3 separate regions of the Homo sapiens genome follow, and regions 2 and 3 are each linked to region 1. Evidence: fine-mapped expression QTL. A gene starts in region 1. Each other region holds a variant in brackets. All regions are shown on one strand. Distances are from middle to middle.

Region 1 (8,190 bases):
GTGTACAATAAAGTAACTTCAAATCTTTTAACCTTAGTAAATACAGGTCCTTATCCTAAAGCAATGTTATCTTTAATTATCACTTATTTGTGAATTGTTAGAAAATAATGACTTCAATCAATTAAGAGTCTGAGCTCTACAAATATTAACCAAGATTTCCTCTAACAAAGGCAATTTCTGGGAACATGTAGGTTAAAAGGCCAGCTTCATAGTAAAATAATATTCTTCATTCACAGTAAGGTCAGATGGAGTTTAGTCAGTCACCCTGATGTCTTCTTTTCAATACACAAACTGCTTAAACAGGACAATTGAAGGATGACTTCTCTTAAATGTAAGGTAATTATAATTTGTCCGTAAGGTAATGCAGTGACTCAACTATGTTATTACTTCAGAATAAAAGTAGCATATGATGTGTCTATGACAATGAAATGGAAAAGCCATCAGTATTAATTTCTTATGACTATCTGCATCTCTCTCACATTTTATGACTACTGACTGTAGGTCTCAAATATAAGGAAGAATTTGCCAGTAAAAATGAGTTACTGGCAAAGGTTATAAAAACATCTTAAAGATCCTTCATAAAAGCATAAATGTTCACCCTCAGGGATGACTTGGCATCATCTGACCTGAAAGCAAGAATACAAAGTAGAAAACTCTTCAGGTCTAATCTATCCATGTTATTCTTGAAGCCAAAAAAGGCTAAAAATCTTTCTTTTTTTCTTTTGTCCTATAATCACCTTTCTCTTTAACCATCACTCTCTCTTCTGCTAGACATGAGACTACAAATTTGCTGACATAAAAGAATTTGTCCTCTAACTGCTTTCATTATCATTATAAAACTATAATATTTGTTAAAAACTAATTTGAAATCGTTTTACAGCAAAATTTTCAAAATCCAGCCTAAATTAGGTGAAGCAATGATATCATTTAATCAGCTATATGCCTAGGTATGTTTTGTTAATCTATTACCTAGGTGAGGAGTTTATGTTTCAAGCAAAATGTAATATGTGTATTGATGGCTGCAACTTCCCTGGAAATGCATCAACAAATAAGATGGGTTGACATCTGGGTAAAAGGATAAATAAGTGATAAAGCAAAAACAGCAAAATGTTAAAACTTTAGAACCTTGGAGGTGGCTATATGGGTGTTGACTGTGACACTGTTTCAACTTTTCTATATGTTTGAAATTTTTCACAATAAATTGTTGGGGAAAATGTAATCACATTTGAAACCTGTTTTAAATGGCAAGGGAAAAATGTCCAAATCCCACAGAATTCTGCAAAATCCAATAGGCAAGATTTTTGCAGCTTATGTTTGTTGAGCTGAGGAGGAAAAACAAAAAAGATTACCATAATCCCTTTATCTGTCTACCTCCAGAAAAGTACAAAAAATTTACACTCTTATTGAGAAATAACGGCAGGTGAAAGGTTTGTTTGTTAAGAATTCTCCGTGGTAAAACTAAGTTCCTCTGGCTACATTTTGAAGCTTAAAAACAAATTATTACTGTTATTTCAGGCAATGTTTCACTTCCTTGATTACCCAGAATAACTTTATTTTCAATATAGATATATTTCCTGAAAGGAGATAAACCACACCTTCTTCAGATTACTTAATCATCCTTTTTGGCAGTGTCCTTGCACTGTGAATCTACCTGAAATTATTATTTTTTTAAATCTGAAAACAAAAAACATAAATGATCAACACATTGGAAAATGTGTTTACCTACTCAATAGCATGCATATGAACTATATGTTTTGTGTGTTGCAAGCCTTTCAATACAAATGACCTTCTAAAGTGGCATGAGACAGGCATATTTATATTTGATATTCCATTAATGATTTTTTTGGTAGTTTTTTAAAACATACCACCCTCTGTATTAATAAAGATGGAAAAATACGTAGCTCAGCTACTAGTGGATAATAATGATTTATTCAACAAACATTTATTTAATACCTATTATGTGCAAGGGATAGTGCTAAACCTAAGATGAGCATACAAATAAGATGCAGTCCCTGAATTAACTAAATCAATAGTTTGGTAAAGAAGAAATACAAATGAACAAATATAAAATCTCATAAATTGGTTAGTAAGTATATGTAGAGTAATACTGTAATGAAGAGGAGAAACCTAAATTAGCTTAGGGGGGTGAGGGTCTCTGGGAAGGCTTCCTGAACTTGGTCTTAAAGAATGGGTATTAGTGATCTAGGCAGGAGAGAATGGGAGACAATATTCTATGATGAGGCAGCAGCGTAGAGGAACAAAGCAGCATGTTGTGGGCAGAGAACTACAAGCAATTCAGTATTGCTGGAGAGAAAGCGAGAAAGCTCATGGTATGGAGTGGAGAGAGATGATGCTAAAAAGGTAGGCAGTGGCCACACCACGAATGATCTTGTGGGGTATGTTAACAAACCTGGACTTTCTCTTGGCCTCAGAAGGATCTAGAAGGGGTGTAATATTTTCAGATTGTTAACTATAACTCTCTGACCCCCTTGAGTGAAGGAGACATTATTATCAGCTACAAGAGTGACAAAATGAGGACCTGAGAATCAAGATGGTGATAGACGGTATGGTTTCTATTGAGATATACAGGCAGACATGACAGACGATGTGGGGGTGACTCCCAAGTGTCTGGCTGGGGTTAATCTGTTGATGACAATACTCTCCTCACCCACCCCCACCCCCGACCCATCCAAGTAGATAATATGGAAAGAAAAGCAAAATGGAAAGGGAAGGTGATGGATTCAACCTTGGATGTGTTGAATATGCTTCCGGGTTATCTAGGTGAAGATTTCCAGCAGAACGTTAACATGAAGCCAAGAGGGAGGAAGTCTGGATAGGAGGCTGAAATTTGAATCTACAAAATATTAGCGATACTAGGAATTCTGAGTGAACAGCCAGTTTTTGTGAGGTTTTGTTTGTTTTACTTAAGCCATTCTAATAGGTGGGTTGTGGTAGCTCATTGTGATTTAAATGTTTATTTTCCTAATGTCTAATGATGTTTAGGATCTTTTTTTGTTTGTTTAAGATCTTTTAAAATAATTATTTGCTATTTGTGTATCTTCTTTGGTGTCTATTCAAATCTTTTGCCCATTTTTAAACAACGAACTGTTTTATTATTGCTTTCTGAGTGCTCCTTATATATTCTCCATACAAGTCCTTCATCAGATACATGCTTTGTAAATATTTTCAGTATGTGGCTTCAAGTCTTTTGAAGAGCATAAATTTTTACTTTGTTGAAGTCCAATTTATCAATTTTTTTCATCACGCTTTTGGTTTAAGAAATATTTGCCTAAATAAGGTCACGAATATTTCCTCCTATGTTTTCTTCTGGTATAGGTTTAGGTTTTCCATTTACATCTACGATCCATTTTGAGTTTTTTGGGGTGTGTATGTGGTGTGAGGAATAGATCAACGTAATGAGAGGGGATAAAACACAGCCACGAAGAGTTTATAGATAGGAAGTGCAAAAAGGTGGATGGAACCTGGGAATGAAAAAAAGCCAAGGTTCAAGGAAGCGGAGTTGGGCATTGTCGGGGAGGCAACAGGAAAATTCTGAGTAACCAACACTGCCTGCTAAGAAAAGCAATGACAGCTGTCTTTTTTAACTTGGATGAGGTCACCTTGGGAAGAGCATTTTCAGTCAAAACAAATCTTCCCTATTTCTAATTACATGTAACCAACAGCTTTATAAGAATTCCCCCGGCAGAAACACTTGAGAGGTCTGAAATCCCTGAGCACTATTAAAGGTCACTTCTTTAGGTACAGGAAGGTCTGGGATTCCTGACACTGAGGGTGACTGAAACATCCTTGGGGCACTCCAGGCATAAGGTCTTGGGGACAAACCCAAGGAGTCATTGCCTTGTTGGGAAATCAGAAGCACACTCACTGCTGGGTTTGCCAATCTCACGCTTCACCAGGAAGACACCTAGTTGAACTACAGGAGGATGAGAAGACTGGAATTAAAATCTGTGCACTCGGCCAAATCCGGGGACAAATCAGGAAAATCCTTCCCAGCCCTCCCTGTTTCTGGAGAGGAGGAGTAGGGCGCAGGGCCCCTCCCGACTCTCTTCCACGTGGCTCCTCTCGAGCGAAGAGCTACTGCACTTACCCAGGCTTAGGAAGCGGGTGTTTAAGCCATGGGTTAGAGGGCTCGTGAGCACGCCCGATCCTTTCCCTGAGGCTATGAAACGGTGGCTCCACGGACTCCTCTCGGCCGACTGACCTTTCGCCGCCCTGCCCCAGCAGCCGGCGGGTTTCTTCAGTGGAGCCGGGCTCTGGTCTCCGCAGCCCAGTAGCCCGCTAGCCCGGCCCCCTCCCGCTAGTCGTAAAGTGCAGTAAAGGCACCAGCATTTTGCGGCACCGTAGGTGAGGCCGGCGGCGTGGGCCTTTTCTCTGCACGGAGCCGGCGCTTTTGCAGTTGCTTCTGCGGAAAGGTGGTAGTTAAGAATTTGTAAAGGCCAGAGAACTACCTACGATTCTCTCAGCGGGTAATTGGCTGCTCCTAGGTTTGTGTAACAAGAGGCAAAACTGGTAGGGTTGTTTAAAACCTCTTATCCCAGTTCTTAAGCGTGACATAAGGTTCCCAAACCCCTCCTTGTGACTTGCCTCTTCTCTTGTGCTACTTTGGTTGTCATCGTGTTCATCACTAGATTTTAGATGTCCTCGGTGTTACTGACGGTTTTTCTGTCCACTTCGTCTTGCAGTCTCTCTTCTCCTCAAGTTTGAAATGCTTTATCTCATCGGGTTGGGCCTGGGAGATGCCAAGGACATCACAGTCAAGGGCCTGGAAGTTGTTAGACGCTGCAGTCGAGTGTATCTGGAAGCCTACACCTCAGTCCTAACTGTAGGGAAGGAAGCCTTGGTAGGTGCTGAGCGTTCCCCAGCCTCCTGGGAAGAAAGCTATCTAACATCTGATTTTCATACACTAAGCTGAACAGAATTTTCAGGTCTGCTTGTTTAAACCCTTTGAAACGCATCCCTTGTTCATTAATGATCTGAGGAGCAGAAGAATGGAAATTTTACACCAACCAAGTGACTTGGAAAATGAAAGGGTGCTTTGTCCTATTTTACAAGTCTAATTTTGTGGCTTTCTCCAGTAAATAGGAAAGCTATTTTATACTCCTGGGGGATAGTTATCAAAACCCCTTATTTCATGAGGTAGTCAAGAAACCCTTTCTGAGTTGAGTGCTAATGAGGAGCTGACACAGCCTTAATGAGTTGGTTATATATATTCAAAAACCAAGCTGAAAGCTTCCCCCTTTGAAGTGTGTCCATAGGGAATGGCGATTGCCTTTTTGTATCCTATCCAGAGAGATCTTATCTTAAATAGACTATCTCCCAATAAGGCTTATACTGATACACTTGTATATATTGAGTGAGCCTGGACTTAATATATAAAAATGTATGAGTATACACTTACATGAGTATACACTAAGTAACCAAAGTATTTGTTAGTATATTATACATTTATAGTTGGCCCTCATAAGGGCCCAGTAAATTTGGGGGAAGGGTCAACTTCAGGTTCATTGTCAAACTCTAAGTAGAATGTAAATCAAAGGATTAATACATATGTTATGGGAGGAGGGAGCAGATTTATTGTCATGTCTTCCAAACAAAAAATAGACTTAAAATTTTTAGGCCTCAGATTACTTTAAAATCTTATAGAAGGAATTAAGAACTGCTACTTGAATTGGCCATGCATTTAAATAAAAGTTGTGTGTAAAGACCAACTTTGATATATACATATATGTGGAGAGAGAGAGAAAATAAGTCTTGCTCTGTTGCCCAGGCTGGGGTGCAATGGTATGATCATGGCTCACTGCAGCCTCAGCCTCCTGGGCTCAAGTATCCTCCCACCTCAACCTCTCGAGTAGCTGAGACTACAGGTGGGTGCCATCATGCCCAGCTAATTTTTTGTATTTTTTGTAGAGACAGGGTTTTGCCACATTGCCCAGGCTGGTCACAAGTTCCTGGACTCTAGTGATCTGCCCACCTCGGCCTCCTAAAGTGCTGGGATTGTATAGGCACAAGCAACCACACCCAGCCTAAGGCCAGCTTTGATTTAAAAAACATTTTTTTTTCTCATTTTTTCACTCTTAGGATAGAACCAAAATATCTAAGCTCGAAATGATGGAAATGTGCGTCTCTAATCAGTGATTAAGGAAAAGTAAAAGGAACTTAACACCTTCAAGAAAAGACAGACAAATAACAAAACAGCAGTTTGATAGAATGAGATATCAGGGGATGGCATAGAGGAAAGTTTGGTTATAGTTTTATCTTTGTTACATGTTAATGTGACCTTGGACAAGTCCTTTAACTTTAGTGTCTTTTTTAAATGGGGTAAAAAACATCTACTTTAGGTGTTCAGCATAATTCTTAGCATAGGTTCTTAACTATGGTATATGGCACAAAACTGTTCAGAAATAGAAATTGTCAATGTTCACATTTCCAAACTTCTCTGAACCTCAGTTTCTTCATTTGTCAAGTGGCAATTACCAGTTGGAGGGTTATGTAGTGTTTTATTGAGATGATGTATATGAAAGTGCTTTGTAAATTTTCAGTGCTAGCTAAATGTTAATTTTGGCTGCTGTTATTTTGTAAAGTATTTTTTTCCAAAGACAAAACTTCTGGAGTTACTACTTACAGAGTCAAGACCTGAAGCTGGACCCAGCCTTACCTACAGTAAATTATGTGTACTTTGTTAAGGTGCTGGAATATCTGTTTCTTCACAGTAATAAGTACTGACATTTATAGAACAGTTACAGAACAGTTACTGTGCACTGTTTTAAATGCTTTACATGTAGATTAGGATTATTATTCTAATTACTGTTCATTTTGCAGGGATAGAGAAGTTAACAAACTTGCCTAAGTTCATGCAGATAGTGAATGATAGAGCCAGGAGATGAACCAAAGCAGTCCTGAGTTGAAGTCTGCCACTCTTTTTATTATTATTATTATTTATTATGTTTTTTTATTTTGAGACGGAGTCTTGCTATGTTGCCTAGGCTGGAATGCAGTGGTGCGATCTCGGCCCCCTGCAACCTCTGCCTCTCGGGTTCAAGCAATTCTTCTGTCACAGCCTTCTGAGTAGCTGGGATTACAGGCGTGTGCCATTGCGCCCGGCTAATTTTTGTATTTTTAGTAGGATGAGATTTCACCATGTTGGCCAGGCTGGTCTCGAACTCCTGACCTCAGGTGATCCACCTGCCTCGGCCTCCAAAGTGCTGTGATTACAGGTGAGAGCCACTGCGCCCGGCCGAGGTCTACCACTCTTGACCTCTACACTGTACTGTGTCTCTGTATTCTTAAGGATAGATAATAGCTACACAAAGTTTAACTTCACAGAACACCTACAGAGAAGGTAGGATTCAAGCAAAATGGTCAATGCTGGATCCTGCCCTGCTTAATAATTTGTTCATGTACTCATTTGTTTGACAGATATTATTGAGTACCAGATACCGTTGCACTACAGCAATCCTTATAAATTTTAATAACTCACTCAAAGTTCTCAGTATGTAAGAAACCGTATTATTTATCTATGCATCCAGTTTTACTCCATTTGAATTACTTATTACTTCTCAGGAAATCAGTTTTAAGATTCATGATCCTTCATTCTGTACTGGCTGACGAGATGAAAAAAAAGAAAAGGATTCATGATCTTGCATAATAGCCCGTAACCACTATCAGATGACTACTAGCTTACTAGCTCACTCTCTACTGGATTTGTTCTCTAGAGTTGAGCTGCAGGGAATTAAATCACAAAGCAGTTTGTTTGCAAACTTCCTACATATTTAGAATTCAGTTACTGCTCCTGCAACTCTGCCTTTTTAGCAGAAACTAAGGAATATAGTTTTAAATTAGTATCTTCTGCATTTATGTAGGAATGTTCACTGGTTCTGTAAACAGCTAATTTTCTATTGTTTCTCATTGGTGCTGCCTTTTTTTTCTAGCTGAGTTGCCATATGTTTAACCATTGAAAATTTAATAAAAGCTAAACCACCATGTTTGTTTAAACTTATTGTTTAATATATTTATTCTGTATTACATCATGTTTCTGAAGTAGGGCTCATGTGTACATATTCCGCATTCATCCTACAGTGTTCTATTTGGCCTTTAGAACCAAATTTAGAAATAAATTTAAAATGCAAAAAGCCTCAGATGTTAAGAGTTCCGCCTCCTTTGGGATATTAA
Region 2 (8,190 bases), 250 kb after region 1:
AATAGAAATATCTTTATTTTATAAATATATATCAGAATAAAGTAACATGACATCGCTGCTATCCAGCACATTTGCACAACTTTTTTTGTGATAGTCCTCATGACAATGTGTTGAGATGAGCCCTCTCATCCAATCTTGTTAGAAGTATAATTTAGTAGGACTGGTCTGAAATGTAGTTTAGCAGTATGTAACAAGATGCTTTCTTTCAGTATTTTAATTTATTAGTATCTTCTAAATAAATAATCAAAACTGTTGATAAAATCTATTCATAAAATTACTTACTTCAATATCATTTAGACTATCTAAAATTTAGAGCCAAACTGTCAAATATTAGGGGATAATGCAGTTATATTATGGCATATATATGCCATGAAGAATTATGTAGTCCTAAAAATGTTTATGGAACTTCTTATTACCAACATAGGTCAGGAAATATGATATAATGCATAATGAAAATTTAAGATATTAGCATATTTTAACAACATAAGAATGTATGGATTGATAAATAAGCAGCAACTGTGGCTAATTCTAGTTACTTGGGGGTTTTAGACTCAATACAATTTTCTCTCTTTGTTGTTTTTTCCAAATTTTTCTATAATGGCCACGTATTACTGTATTAGTCAGGGTTCTTTAGAGGGACAGAACTAATGGAATATATATATATACACACACACACATATATATATATATTCCATTAGTTATGGATATATATGTGGGAGTTTATTAAGCATTATTAAGTAAAGTATCATTAAGTATTAACTCACATGATCACAAGGTCCCACAGTAGGCCCTCTGCAGGTTGAGGATCAAGGAGAGCCAGTCCAAGTTCCAAAACCAAAGAACATGGAGTCTGATGTTCAAGGGCAGGAAGCATCCAGCATGGGAGAAAGATGTAGGCTGGGAGGCTAGGCCAGTCTCTCTTTTCACATTTTTCTGCCTGCTTATATTCTAGCCGAGCTGCCAGCTGAGTGGATTGTGCCAACCCAGATTAAGGGTGGGTCTGCCTTTCCCAGCCCCCAGACTCAAATGTTAATCTCCTTTGGCAACACCCTCACAGACACATCCAGGATCAATACTTTGTATCTTTCAATCCAATCAAGTTGACACTCAGTGCTAACCATCACAATTACTTTTATCATCAGAAAAACAAACATTTATATTTTAAAACTGTGAACAGAGTTAATATGTTAGATACAGACAATATATCAATGACACAGAGAAAAAGGTGAAATTAGAATCTCATCTAAGAGCTTTCTAACTCTAAAGCCAGTGTGTTTTCAACACATAGAAACTATGATTTGAAATATTATTCTCTCTTGGAATAAACCACATAAGGTTCACCTGTATGCCCATTGAGACATCTTGGAGTAAGGGTTTCTAAGTTCAATTACCTGCATGGAGAAAGAGTATCCATCCATATTTTGTTATCATTTACTCAGAAAAATATATTAATACCATCAAAGTTACAATGAATTAGGAACTTATATTTAGAAAAGTATCTCACTATGATACAATAGTGTGCTTGTCTTTCTAATGTTAGCTATAATCTAGTGCTTCCCTTTCTAATGTTAATTAACACTGATATGTATATTATCAAGTACATCAATAAAAAAGCAATTCACATCCTCAGATCATTTTTAAATGATAAGCTAAATCCAAACCTATGTACATGAAGTTAAATATAAGAAGGGGCCCTATAATAATTCAGATTTAGATAAGTTGATTACAGATTCTTAAGTGAAGCTTTCACATTGAGTAGACTGGATAAGTCCTATTTAATTAAACCTGAAAGTCTTGTGGCAAATCCACTGATTAGGCAGTTAACATATTAATGCTTCATGGGCAGATTGCAGAATGAATTCAGCATTTATGAAAACAAGAAGTACAATGTGAACCGAAAAAGTAGAAAATTCCCTATATCCTTTCATTTGAAGGGCAAAGAGCCAAACAAGAAGTTCATGGAAGTTGTACTTGACATTAGCGTTCCTTACAGGAAACAAAAAAAAATCATATGTTTATTTCTTAGGCTAAATAGGTTTGCTCTTCAAGATGTTTTCTAATACCGTTTAGCAGTTGAGAATATAAAACACAACAAAACTTTGCTGAATAAAATTTATAGGAGGTCATTGTTTTGGACTCAGTTCCTCCACTAGACCCCAACAGACTGAACCAAAATGCAGTCACTCAGGCTAAGTGACACATAATCAAAGTGAAGCAGGAAAATCCCTAAACTGACCAGTTTTTCCTAAAACAGGAGATTTCCAGTAGCTGGTCAAAAAGGGCCCAGTCAACCTGAGCCAGCATGGTAAGGAAGTCCCCTCTGCTTTAACCCTTATTAGGAAAGAAACCTAACTAACTCGATGTTAACCACTTCACTTTTTTTGTATTATGCTCTTTCCTTGTTCCTGTTCAAGCTACCTTATAAAAACTGATTGTTCTGTTATGCCCAGCAGAGCATCTGTCTATTTTTATAGATGGAATGCTGGCCAATTCATGAAATCACTAATAAAAGCCAATTAGATCTTTAAACTCAATTTTTTGAAATTTTGTCTTTTGACAACTCTGTTTTGCAAAAGTAGAGATATTTTCTCATTTTAGTTAATTAGTAGGTAATTAGACCAAACAATGAGAAAACTATATCTAAATATCATCTCACAATCAACAAATCTTTATTGAGCTTTTATCCTAGGGCCTGGAGATGCAGCAATAACATAAGACAGCACTCCTGTTCTCAAGGCACTGATGTTCTAGTGGGGGAGCATATAATAAGTAAATAAGAAATACATAGTGTAAATTCAGGAAGTAATATGTGCTATGAAGAAAAACAAGGCAGGATAAAGGATGAGGGTAACAATATATGGTTGTGTGAGAACCTGCTTAGGATGGAGTGCATCAGAAAGGCCTCACACAAGGAGGTTCAATTTAAGCAGAATTTAGAAGGCAGGGAAGAAACAAACCGTGATATGACCCAAAGGAAGGATGTTCCAAGGAGAGGGAAGAGTAAGTGCAAAGATCCAAGGTGGAAACAAGCTTGGCACATTTTAAACAGAGCAAGAATGGCTGAAGTAGAGTAATCAGGGAAAGAATGAAAGAGGTGGGAGAGTCAAGCGGGAGCTAGATCATTTGGGACCTTAAATGTACAATTTGGATTTTACTCAAAATGCATTGGGAAATAATTGGAAGGCTTTGAAAGGGAGAAAGATGTGATCTGACTGATATGGTTTGGCTGTATCCCAACCCAAATCTCATCTTGAATTCCCACATGTTGTGGGAGGGACTCAGTGGGAGGTAATTGAATCATGAGGGCAGGTCTTTCCTGTGCTGTTCTCGTGATAGTGAATGGGTCTCATGAGATCTGATGGTTTTAAAAATGAGAGTTTCCCCGCACAAGCTCTCTTCTCTTGCCTGCCACCATGTGAGATGTGCTTTTCACTTTCTGCCATGACTGTGAGGCCTCCCGAGCTACGTGGAACTGTAAGTCCATTAAACCTCTTTCTTTTGTAAATTTCCCAGTCTCAGGTATGTCTTTATCAGCAGCATGAAAATGGACTAATACAGTAAATTGGTACCAGGAGAGTGGAGTGCTGCTATAGATACCCAAAAATGTGGAAGTGACTGGAACTGGGAAAGAGGCAGGTGTTAGAACAGTTTGGAGGGCTCAGCAGAAGACATGAAAATGTGAAAAAGTTTGGAACTTCCTAGAGACTTGTTGAATGGCTTTGCCCAAAATTCTGATAGTGATATGGACAATAAAGTCCAGACTGAAGTGGTCTCAGATGGAGATGAGGAACTTGTTGGGAACTGGAACAAGGGTGACTCTTGTTATGTTTTAGCAAAGAGACTGGCAGCATTTTGCCCCTGCCCTAGAGATTTGTGGAACTTTGAACTTGACAGAGATGATTTAAGGTATCTCGTAGAAGAAATTTCTAAGCAGCAAAGCATTCAAGAGGTGACTTGTGTACTGTTAAAGGTATTCAGTTTTAAAAGGGAAACATCATAAAAGTTCAGAAAATTTGCAGCCTGGCAATGCAATAGAAAGGAAAATCCCATTTTCTGAGGAGAAATTCAAGCCAGCTGCAGAAATTTGCATAAGTAACCAGGAGCCTCACCATGACAATGGGGAAAATGTCTCCAGGGCATGTCACAGGACTTCATGGAAGCCCCTCCCATCACAGGCTGGGAGTCCTAGGAGGAAAATATGGTTTCATAGGCCAGGCCCAGAGTCCTCATTCTGTGTTTAGCCTAGGGACTTTGTGCTCTGCATCCCAGCCACTCCAGCCATGGCTGAAAGGAGCCAACATAGAGCTCAGGCTGTGGCTTCAAAGGGTGCCTGCCCCAAGCCTTGGCAGCTTCCGTGTGGTGTTGAGCCTGCAGGTGCACAGACATCAAAAATTTAGATTTGGGAACCTCCACCTAGATTTCACAGGATGTAGGGAAAAACCTGGATGCCCAGGCAGAAGTTTGCTGCAGGGACAGGGCCCTCATAGGAGAACTTCTGCTAGGGCAGTACAGAAGGGAAATGTAGGGTTGGAGCCCCCATACAGAGTCCCTATTGGGGCATCACTTAGTGGAGCTGTGAGAGGAGGGCCACCATCCTCCAGACCCCGGAATGGTAGATCTACCAACAGCTTACACCATGTGCCTGGAAAAGCTACAGACACTTAATGCCAGCCTCTGAAAGCAGCCAGGATGGGGGCTATACCCTGGAAAGCCAGAGGGGCAGAGCTGTCCAAGGCCATGGGAGCCCACCTCATGCATCAGCATGACCTGGACGTAAGACATGGAGTCAAAGGAGATAATTTTGGAGCTTTAAGATTTGACTGCCCCACTGGATTTCGGACTTGCATGGGGCCTGTAGCCCCATTGTTTTGGCCAATTTCTCCTATTTGGAACATC[T/G]GTATTTACCCAATGCCCGTACCTTCATTTGTATCTAGGAAGTAACTAACATGCTTTTGATTTTATGGGCTCATAGGCAGAAGGGTTTTGCCTTGTCTCAGATGAGACTTTGGAGTGTGGACTTTTGAGTTAATGCTGAAATGAGTTAAGACATTGGGGGACTGTTGGGAAGGATGATTGGTTTTGAAATGTGAGAACATGAGATTTGAGAGGGGCCAGGGATGGAATGATATGGTTTGGCTGTGTCCCAACCCAAATCTCATCTTGAATTCCCATGTGTTGTGGAAGGGACCCAGTGGGAGGTAATTGAATCATGGGGGCAGGTTTTCCCATGCTGTTCTCGTGATAGTGAATAAGTCTCACGAGATCTGATGGTTTTAAAAATGGAAGTCTCCCTACACAAGCTCTCTTCTCTTGTCTGCCACCATGTGAGACATGCCTTTCACCTTCTGCAAAGATTGTGAGGCCTCCATAGCCACATGTAATTGTAAGTCCATTAAATCTCTTTCTTTTGTAAATTTCCCAGTCTCAGGTGTGTCTTTATCAGCAGTGTGAAAATGGATGATTACACTGATTTACACTTATTTATGGGCGCTATGAAAAGTTTTTTATGGGAACAAGAATGGAAACAGAGACATTAAAGTGATTATTTCAGTTGTTCAGATGTGAAATAATGGTGGCTTGAAAAAGAGTGATAGAGATGGAGGTGGTGATGAAGACTTGGGATATAAATTGAGAATAGAGCCAACAGGATGTGCTAATGAAATGAATTTATCATATGAGATATGAAGAAAAGTCAATAATGATTTCCAGCATTCATAGTGCTATTTACCTAGATGTGGATTACTAAGAGAGGTGAGGCTTGAGGGCAAAGGAAAAGAGGTGGTCAGAAAAGTTGGGGGTCATTAGAGTATATATGGGATATAAATCCGTGGATCTAATTGAGATTGCTTAGGACGTAAGTGTATCTAGAGAAGCTGGCTGAGGACTGAGTGCTGGACCACTTCAGTAATTAGAAGTTAGATAGGTGATACAGAGCCATCAGGAGTGGGTCTCCAGTGAAGCAAGAGGAAAGCAGGTAGATAGTAGTATTTGGAAATCTAAGTGAAGAGAGTATTTCCAGGAGAAAGGGGTGGTGAATGGTCAGTAAAAGGAGAATTGACCATTGTTTTTGGCAACCTTCAGGTCACTGTTGTCCCCAAGGACAGCAGTAAGCAGAAGGTGAGGGAAAAAGCATGACTAGAGTAGGTTAAAAGATGATGGGAATTGAGGAAGTGAAGATAGCAAAAGTAGACAAAATAGACAATTCTTTCTGTGGCAGCTCACTGTGAAGGAAAGTAGAGAAATGGAGTTGTAACTGTTTGGGGAAGTGCCACTAGGGTGATTTTATACATATATACTTTAATATTGAAAGATATTAGAGCATGTGTGCATGCTGGTGGTAGGGATGATAACAATAGACAGTAAAGATTCTCCATATGTAAAAACAAGCAATACTAAAGTTAAAGTTTTTAAAAATTAAAAATCTGTAAATATATTAATATTTATTCAGAGAAAAGTTATTTGTTCCATATTTTATGGGGCAGAAATATGGAAATTTGAGAACTTGAATTCTTTTTTTATTTTATTATTATTATACTTTAAGTTCTAGGGTACATGTGCACAACGTGCAGGTTTGTTACATATGTATACATGTGCCATGTTGGTGTGCTGCACCCACTAACTCATCATTTACATTAGGTATATCTCCTAATGCTATCTGTCCCCCCTCCCCCCACCCCATGACAGGCCCCAGTGTGTCACGTTCACCTTCCTGTGTCCATGTGTTTTCATTGTTCAATTCCCACCTATGAGTGAGAACACGTGGTGTTTGGTTTTTTGTCCTTGCGGTAGTTGCTGAGAATGATAGTTTCCAGCTTCATCCATGTCTCTACAATGGACATGAACTCATCATTTTTTGTGGCTGCATAGTATTCCATGGTGTATATGTGCCACATTTTCTTAATCCAGTCTATCATTGATGGACATTTGGGTTGGTTCCAAGTCTTTGCTATTGTGAATAGTGCCGCAATAAATATACATGGAGCACTTGAATTCTTGATGAAAAGGATTGATGATACATTGGTTAAATGATTTACAAAAACGGCCTCAACTACTTCTTGAAGAAGTAATGTTATCATTTTCATTATAATAAGACAACTAAGCTGGAACATGTTAAGAAATTTGTCCTAAGTTAGTAAGAGGGAAAAAAAAAATCAAAGATTTCAATCTAGGCTTGTTTTATTCTAAAATCTCAATTTTTAACTAACAAAGGAGGTAGGTGCTTTAAAAACAAACATCTTGGTTTAATATATTCATCAGTGACCTCCACCTCTTTGAGAAGAAGGCTCTTCATTAATATCAAAAACAGTAATAAAAGCACAAACTCTTCTGATGGAGTTCTGGTTACAGTAATGTTGGAGTAGCCTGTGTAAGATCAACCCTTGTGCAGACAACACTTCTACACTCTGGACAAAATTTGAAGAAAAACAAAACTGAATGAAGATATTGCAGAGCAAGCAAAAGCAGGCAAAAGTTGATTTGACCCTTAAAAGAAGGCAACCATGCTGGGTGATACGCACATTTCTATAGCTTTCTTCTTTGGGTCATCCCCTAGGCCTTAAAATGTGGAGTAGCCAGAATGCAAGCAGAGAGCTGTAGTCTTATTAGGCTGAGGAGTCACAGCAGGAGTTTGAGACTGCCAGAAAAAATAGATTTGAGGGGAGAAGCTCCAAAGAAGGGGACTCATAGAGGGGGCAGCCTCAAAATTTGCTTATAAAATCAACTCAAGCAATTGGTTAAATTCTGACTGCACATGCATGGGCAATACTCCGATAATAGCTTGAAGGCTGAAACAGCTGAACAAAAGGTTTTAATTGTTGTCCTCCAAACAGCATTTGAAGTTTAAGTCCCACAAATTAGAAGACCTTGGTAATAATTTTGAGCTCTCAACTGAAACTCCAGAAAAACCATGCCTTAGGAATAAGACTACATGCTGGGATAAAGGAACTCACTCTAAGATCAAAGGCAAAACCAAAATAAATTTGCCCCCCAAAATCAATCTTCCATGAGTTAAGGTAATTAACTATCCACCAGAACAAAACCAAGCACCCTTCAGAGGAACATAAAAGAATTTTGGCTCTTTACATTGTATTATTCACAATGTCCAATAAATGATCAAAATAAATAGGGATACAAAAAACATCAGAAAAAAAGAAATATCAATCAATAGAAATGACCAGATGTTGGATTAGT
Region 3 (8,190 bases), 300 kb after region 1:
ATTTTAATCATCCAAGTTTAAATACCATGTTTTCACATTTTAAAAATTTGTGTTGAGCTGGGTGTAGTGGCACGTGCCTATAATCCCAGCTACTCAGGCAGCTAGGGTGGGAGGATCACTTGAGCCTAGGAGTTTGACTTCAGTGTGGGCAACATAGCAAGATCTCATTTCCTAAAACAAACAAAAGACTATGCTGCCCATGTTTATAATCTATTCATTAATTCAGCAAATATTTACTGAACATTTATTATGTGTTAGGTACTGTGCTAAGAATCCAAACATTCACACACACACACACACACACACACACACACACACAGAATTCCTGATTTTAAGGAGTTTACAGATTTTTTAAAAATTAAATAGAAACAGGAGGTCTCACTATATTGCCGAGGCTGGTCTTGTACTCCTGGCCTCAAGCAATCCTTCCACCTAAGCCTCCCAAAGTGCTGGGATTATAGGCTTGAGCCATTGTGCCCGGAGCAGGAATTTACAGTTTAGTGGAAAGACACATTTAAAAAGATATATTATTTTGGCTCTTACTAAGGAATATTTGCGTTACCTATTTATATGCCTGTCCTTCCTTCCTAGTTTGTATGCTCCCCTAGGGCAGTTGTCATATCTTTTTCATATCTGTACCCCCAGTACCAAGTACAATTCTTGGATTCTTGGACAAGGGCTCTTAATATTTGTTGAACTGAACAGAATAGCATACATGACTATAAGGAGTGTTGAGTGTACACGAAAGAAAGAATATGTAGTTTGGTCTGACACAGTCTGGAACTGGGAGGCTGACATGAGCTTCATATTGGAGAATGGCTAAGATTTTGCCAGATGAAGGAAGGAGAAAGGCCATTTCAGGCAGAAGGAACAGCGTAAGCAGAGGCACTGAGTCATCAACAGATCTGCAAAGGTAGTTTCTGACCAGATCATAAAGAGTTCTGTGTGACAGTTTTAAGAAATGTGATGGAAGTTATAGAAAATGAGCACCTTTTTGTTTAAGGTAATAAACCCTGGGAGCAGTGCATAAGATTGATTATATTAGGGACAGAATCTTAGCAGGGAGACTATTTAAAGATAATTAGCCATAAAATATGTGAAATATTATTCAGCCTTAAAAAACAAAAGAGGAAATTCTGTCATTTGCAACAAAAGGGATGAACCCAGAGGACACTATGCTAAGTGAAACAAGCCAGGCACAGAGAAGCCAGTACCTCCTGATCTCACTTATATGTGGGATCTACTTCTAAAGTCATAGAAGTAGAGAGTAGAATGGTGGTTACCAGAGGCTGGGGCGAGGAGTGGAAGGGAACAAGGAGATGTTGGTCAATGGATACAAAGGTTCAGTTAGACAGGAGAGTAAGTTGTTTAGATCTATTGTACATCATGATGACTATAGTTAATGATAATATATTGTATATTTAAAAATAGCTAAGAAAGTGAATTTCAAATGTATCACCACAAAAGAGCAAGTGAGGCAATGGATTTGTTGACTTGACTTAATCATTCTACATTGTATACCTATACCAAACATCACATTGTAATCTATAAATGTATACAATCATGATTTATCAATTAAAAATATTTTAAAAAAGAAATAATAAAGACAATTAGCTATAAAATTAAAAAGGCAAAGGGGTTTTCATTAAAATGAACCTGCATCAAAATCATAGTAAATGCAACTAAAGAGCTATTTAGCCCCAGGAAAAGTATGAACTATGCTGAGCCTGGGTTTTTAATAGTGTTGTGGTAAAGATTAATGAGATAAAATATATAAAGCAGAATACAGAATTCCTGGGAAATATTAGGTGTACAATCAATAGGTGGTGTCATTATTAATCTCTGGGAGATTCCACTCTCTCATCTGTAAAATGAATACAAAATACTTACTTTTTAGTTATTTCTTGAGGATGGCATATGGAAAGTGCCAGAAACCTATCTGGTGTTTAGCGAATGCTGTTATGTAAGAATATCTTGCAGGAGCCCAAGTGAGAGATGATAAACTAAGGCAATGGCAAGTGGGGTGAAGAAGAGGTCATATTCCAGGGAGCATTTTGAGGTAGAACTGACAGGATTTAACAGCATGGAATTGGAACATGAATTTGGGAGTAATCAACATATTGTAGTCCAATTCCTGGGAATCTAGTGTGAGAACAGAAGAGGACCCAGGGGTGTAAACTTGAAAATACCAATATCCAAGGGGAAGGAGGAAGAGAGAAAGTGAGGGAATGAAGCAGAGAAAAAGTGATATGAGATGAAAAAGAATCAGAAAAGCAGAGCCATGGAAACTCTGGGAGGGAAGACTTCCACAGAGTACTAGTAAGATAAACATATATTTGTGCTAAAGGATATGGCAATCAGATAGGTCATCAGTGAAACTAAGGGAAGCAATTTCAGCATTGAAGCTGTGTTGACTATTGCTCAAATCCCACTGACAGCACCTTTATCATTCCTTTTTCACATTCTACTCACCTTGAACAATTAATTCCACCTCTTTTCTGTTTTTCCCAATCAAATTAACTCCTTCACACACATAAATTCCAGAATCTTCCATCCTCATAGCAATTAAGGTGAGAGTTGCATTTCCAGAAAGGTGCTGTAGATTCCCATTATCTAATTTCTTACTCCAGAAAATCTCTGGAGCTGGTAGACCCTCGCTGGAACAGGTCATGGTCACAGAGCCACCTTCTTGCAGCTTTGTGGATGGATTCACAGAAATAACTGTATTCTTGGGTGATACTGAAAGGGCAAAAAATAATATTAGCAATTGCTAAGCATCATCCCAGTGCAACAGAGGTAATGTATTTCTCTTAGTATTTATGTGCTTCCACCAATTTGATGAAATTACTCTGCCAAATTAGTATAAAGAACTGCTGAATCATTCAAAATAGTCTATCCAGTTTCTGACTAAACTGATCAAGTTTAGTTGATGTTTCATATTTTTCAGATGGTTGTAGATACTCAGAAATTAAGAAAAACCATGTGGCTTAACCTCCCACTTAAGGGTAAGAGTCCCATTTAAGCATTCTTGCCAAGTGCCCATTCAAGTCAGCTTCAACATTTACTGAGAGAATCAACCCACTGCTTTCCAAAAGAGTCAATTTGATTTTTGGACAGCTCTACATATTAGCACATTTCTCCCTATTGAGCTGAAATCTTCTCTCTATACTATTTTAAACATATTGGCCATAATTCAGCCCTGTGCTGTTACAGAATAAGGTAAATCACTCTTTCATATAACTGTCTTTCAAATGCTTAATTAGATGTCTTTTCCAGCCAGGTTTTGTTTTCTCTTCAGAAAAATATCCTCTATCTTGACTATTCTTCTCAAAATATTGTTAAAAGCCTTCCCAGCTCATTCTCTTTCAGCTAAACATGCCGTAGTTGGCAATACTCCCTTTAAATGTGGTACCCAGTGCAGAACATAGCATTTTAGTCCAGAACAGAGCACAGTGAGGCCACTCCTACACAACGCTGGGACTACAAGACTCCCACAAATCCCCTGGCAGTATCAGGGAGATTGGAGGCAATCAAACCCCGTCATTTTTCCCCTGTCCAGTGCACCTATGTATGTATGTGCATATGCATACACACACACACATACACACACAGAATAAGTGATCACCTTGTCAAGTTTCTGTACCTGTGCAACTAATAGTTCAAGGCATACTATAAGAGTTTACAAAACAATATTAAAATGTTTTATCATTTGAGCCTATTTCCCACTACCCAATCAGGTGGTATTACTATTCCCCTTTTATACACTGGGAAATAGAGAAATTAAGTAACCCAAACTCACACAGTTAATAGAGCCAGAAATTAAGCTCAAGCCTTCTCAGTCCAAATCCAGTGTTCTTTTCACTGAATTATACTATTGACAAACATTATGTTGTGAATGAATACAAATGGAATACAAACTATATACAAGTTTTTTTTTTTTTT[A/TA]CTTTTCTGCTAAGTTTATTGCTATACACAACCAAGGTGGGATTCCCACAAAGACTGGAACACATCGCACAAGTACTTACTGTAGACTTGCAATTCTTTTACAGCCTGCCTTACTGTGGGCACAGAATCCATTTCATCAATGTGTAATTTAGCTCGGCAAACAAGAACTTTTCCAATATCCTCAATGACAGGAGTAAAGGTTACTTCCAAACTCTTGGTTTCCAGGGACTTCCTGTCTGCATCCTCCAGAAATTCCTGACTCTTCATGAGATGATCTCCTTTCAGTAAGTCTATCTCCAGCCTGTCAAATGGGTATACATCAGCAACTGAACACTTGACTGTGATCGGCTTCCCAGCCTCCAGAGGGCCACTCAAATGAATCTCTGGATCCTTAGGAAAAGCTGAAAAGGCCAAACAAATACATGGATGGGCTTTTTGCTAATGTGATATAAGGTCTCTTACCACTTTAACACAATACAAATCAAGTCTAGCGTTTTTGTTAATACAGTCTTAATACGACAGAACTGTTTGAATAGCCTTTCATGATTTGGGGTGAGTTCAAGGCACAAGAATTGGAAGCAAACATTTTTTACAACATTATTCAATTCTGATCCTGTATATATTAAGAGTTGCATGTTATTACAGTAAAAGAAAGAAGAAAAAATAATGTTTATATTGAACCTTACATGTGGCTGTCACTGTGCTATAGATTTAACATGAATGATTTCATTTTATCCTCACAATAACTCTAGGAGATAGAGATCACATTTCACAGAAAAGAAGACCTGGACTTAGTACATTTACATAACTTGTCTAAGGTCACACACCTAGTAAATGGTAAAGCTGGGATTTAAACTCAGGATTTCCATTATTGTGTTTTGCTACTACAGATTTACATTATGTTACATCACATTTTCTTATTATAGTCAGGGCAGATATATTTCCATTTTACAGATAATGACTGTAAGCCTTGGAATGTCATTGCAAAGAATAGTTATTGTCAAGATATTCTAAGAAATGAGAAGACCAACTTTAAGTAATTAGCTTCTGAAAATGGTGCCTCTGACAGGAATTCATCCACCAGAAAGATACATTTGTGCAATCTTTATGTTCTGGAACACATATTTGCCTCCTGAAATGCCTAACTCACTATCCCAACAAGTGTTCCATTGAAGCTTCTAGTACAAGGAAATACACTACTTCACGTGGCCATTGCCTCCTTTGCAAGAGTTACCTTTTTCATTATGCATTATGATGAAGTAACATATTGGTGGATTCAAAACTGTGTAGCAAAAAGAATACAAAGGTCTCAACTCTAACCACTATTACAATCAAATGCGGAAAGGAGACAGAACTGTTATACATAATGAGAAACAGACACTCTTGGAGAAAAACCTCAGGCAAGATAATTAAAACCAGAAGCGTCTTCATTTCTCTTTCTTAAATCTTCAACTATTTGGTACTAGTGGGCAAAAGACAAAGGAGCTGGAAATTCTTTCCTATGTGAAGAAACATGGTATTTTTCATTTTTCCAGCAATAATTTCTGTCCCTCATATTCTGTAAGAAATGTTCCTCTAATCCACACAGTTCGATGTCAGGTAACATAAGAACTTGCTACTTTTCCCTGTATTTACATAAGGGAAGCTTTCAAGGAGCTCGGGAGGCTGCACAGACATAAACTATGCACATACAACCAGCATAATTGAAAGCAGCCGGCCAAGCACAGTTTCTTGGGAAGCTTGAGCAACACATGCGGTTTGTTGCAGAATCAATTAAGGTTACTGGGAAAAGTTGAGCTCCGGTACAATAAAACGAAACCAAAGTAATTATAATCAAATGAGGTCTTCATGAAGACATGACCGTAAATGGGTTCAGTTTTTTAGAAAGAGAGGCCATCAGTAACAAAAGGCAAATGATTTATGTCTGGTTAGTTTTTTACTCCTCTTGCTAACTTTGTTTGCTGAATGGAGAATGGAGTGGGATGCATTTTGTCAGGCTGGTAAACTAGGGACATCCACTCACTTTCATGAGGCAAATCTAGTTCATTATATAAATATCTTTGAAGTTGAGCGGTTGAGCACCAAGGCTTCATGGCACCAAAAAAACCAAAAAAAAATCCTAAATGTGTCAACACCAAAGTCAAATGATTGAAATGTTTCCAGATATTAACAATTATGTCTAAGAAGAACACTTTTATACTAATACATATTACTAATTATAGATCTACTTAATGTTTAAACTAATTTTAAGCATCAAATTGCATAAGAATAAATGAATAGAAAATCCCTGAAGGATGGAATTCATAAATCAATCAGACACATAAGCAAGTAAACATGTAAGGATGTAATCAAATGGAAATATTTTTTAATAAAACAAAAAGAAACTTAGAAATGATCATTTTACAGCTAAGGAAACCAGAGCCCAGAGAGGTTGAGTCTTATACATGGTCACTGTGTTTGTGGCAGAGGTAGAAATAGAAGCCAAGATTTGGATTCCTGCTCTCTCTCATGTTGGCCTTAGCTGTCCCTAGCTTTCCTGATGTTGTATGTTCTTTAGCCAAGAATCTGTACATGAATATCCATTTTAAAACTTTTTTTAAAATATCATTTTTAAAAAGTGATTTTAAAGTAAAATTGAGAGAAAAACAAAGATTTTCTAAAGCACTCACAGTAGATCTCCACCTGGATTCCTTTTTCCAATTTCCTAGATTCACAAGTTGCTGTGCACAGGTAAGAGTGTTCGTTCCCAAAACTAACAGGATTCATTGTCAGCGTAGATGTGGTCCCCTCATTCGTCACCTTCCCATTCAGTGGACTATCTATCTGGGTTCTCCAAGAGAAAAATGGGGACTCACAGCCTGTGGTGCTGCAAGTCAATGAGACGGAGTCACCAATCTGAGCAAGATATCTAGATTCTGGGGTGGTCTCGATTTTAAAAGCTTGAGCTGCAAAAGCAAAAAAAGACAGAAGCAAATTTACCACTAGTTTGTCTAGTATTCTCCTCCTTCTTCTCTGTATAATGTCTAAAATATGATCAGACTGATCTCTTTCCTAAGCTGCTTCAAACTAACTGCAAGGTAGCCAAAAAGCACCGAAGTCACTGCCAAAAAAGTTTATGGAATCATCTTCAGTAGAGAGAATTCTCAGTTCCAACCTTGATGCCCATTTATCAAAGCTGTTTTGTTATTTGCTAAGTTTGACCTCATTGTCAAGTATAGGAAACTAAAGAGACAGACCGACTAGAGACAGAATCCAAATTACTCAATTGCCTTTGGAAAAAAAGATACCAAAAACATCAATTTTCAGCTCTAACTATGACAGTACAATGGTATATAGCAAAACTCAATTGCATATTAAAAGTTAGACTAAATTAACTTTTCCTACTGTTTAAAATCCTAGTGTCTTTACTTCACTACTATCGCAAAACTGACTGAAGCCAAAACCAGGGCTAAAATTGAATGCTAACATTTGAAACAGATGAAGGGAAATAACTTACAAGCTGCAAACATTATCCAAAGTATATTTGAGGCTCCAAGGATCACGACCATCTTCCCAGGCATTTTAAGTTGCTGTCGTGATGAGAAAATAGTGGTTCCAAAACCCTTATTTGTGTCCCACCTGTGTGTGCCTGGGAGGGTATTCAGCTCCTGAAGCCAGTGAGGCCCGATGCAGATACCGCGGAGTGAAATAGAAAGTCTGTGCTTTATAAAGGGTCTTGTTGCAGAGGCGGAGGGAAATCCCTTCAAGGGGAAACCCAGGGCAGAGCCAGGGAAAAAAGTTTAACAGACACCCAGCCAAGTTCCACTATTAACCCCTTCAGTTGCTCTCACTGCTGAAGCTCCTCTCTCTGTCCTGGCAAAAGAAGACACTTCCAAGACTATAAAATACAGGCTTTTCCTCATCTTCGACTCCAAAAGGCTATCTTTACTGGAAAGATAAAGGACAATGCTGATTGCAGAATGAAGCTTTCTGAATCCAATGTGGGTTAAGGGGGTGGGGAGAGAAAAAATGGAGACAGAGTAGTAAATTCTACTCTGGTTTTTGAACTGGATAAATAACGACTATGCCATGTGAATTGATTTTCTCCATCAAGGAAATATGTTTGCAATTCTAAAAGAGATTAATTTTTTTCTCTTACAAGAGAAAGGAAAAAGTTATTTCTTTTGATGAGTCATTTTTTAAAAAAGGGACACCATAACTTCTTAGTTTTATATTTATTCATAAAAATAGTTCTTTTAGCAACAAACA

What was found.
Region 2: its variant is fine-mapped to the expression of DPH5 in whole blood (INTERVAL, PIP above 0.99).
Region 3: its variant is fine-mapped to the expression of DPH5 in whole blood (INTERVAL, PIP above 0.99).

The regions. Positions count from the first base shown.
Region 1 is chr1:101,021,980-101,030,169 of GRCh38, reverse strand. DPH5 (diphthamide biosynthesis 5) reads left to right here and starts at 4,386. Exons shown (of 8, transcript NM_015958.3): 1 at 4,386-4,487; 2 at 4,704-4,861. The coding sequence starts at 4,727. It overlaps DPH5-DT (DPH5 divergent transcript), which reads right to left and starts at 4,324. Exons shown (of 5, transcript NR_109849.1): 1 at 4,109-4,324. RefSeq lists a silencer at 2,604-2,663 and enhancers at 4,455-4,564, 3,657-4,856.
Region 2 is chr1:100,776,959-100,785,148 of GRCh38, reverse strand. No RefSeq gene overlaps it. Among named protein-coding and RNA genes, the nearest start is that of VCAM1, 61 kb to the right of the region's middle. The variant T/G (reference allele first, on the strand shown) is at 4,897.
Region 3 is chr1:100,719,173-100,727,362 of GRCh38, reverse strand. VCAM1 (vascular cell adhesion molecule 1) reads right to left here and starts at 7,621. Exons shown (of 9, transcript NM_001078.4): 1 at 7,439-7,621; 2 at 6,612-6,887; 3 at 4,023-4,343; 4 at 2,473-2,739. The coding sequence starts at 7,502. The variant A/TA (reference allele first, on the strand shown) is at 3,943.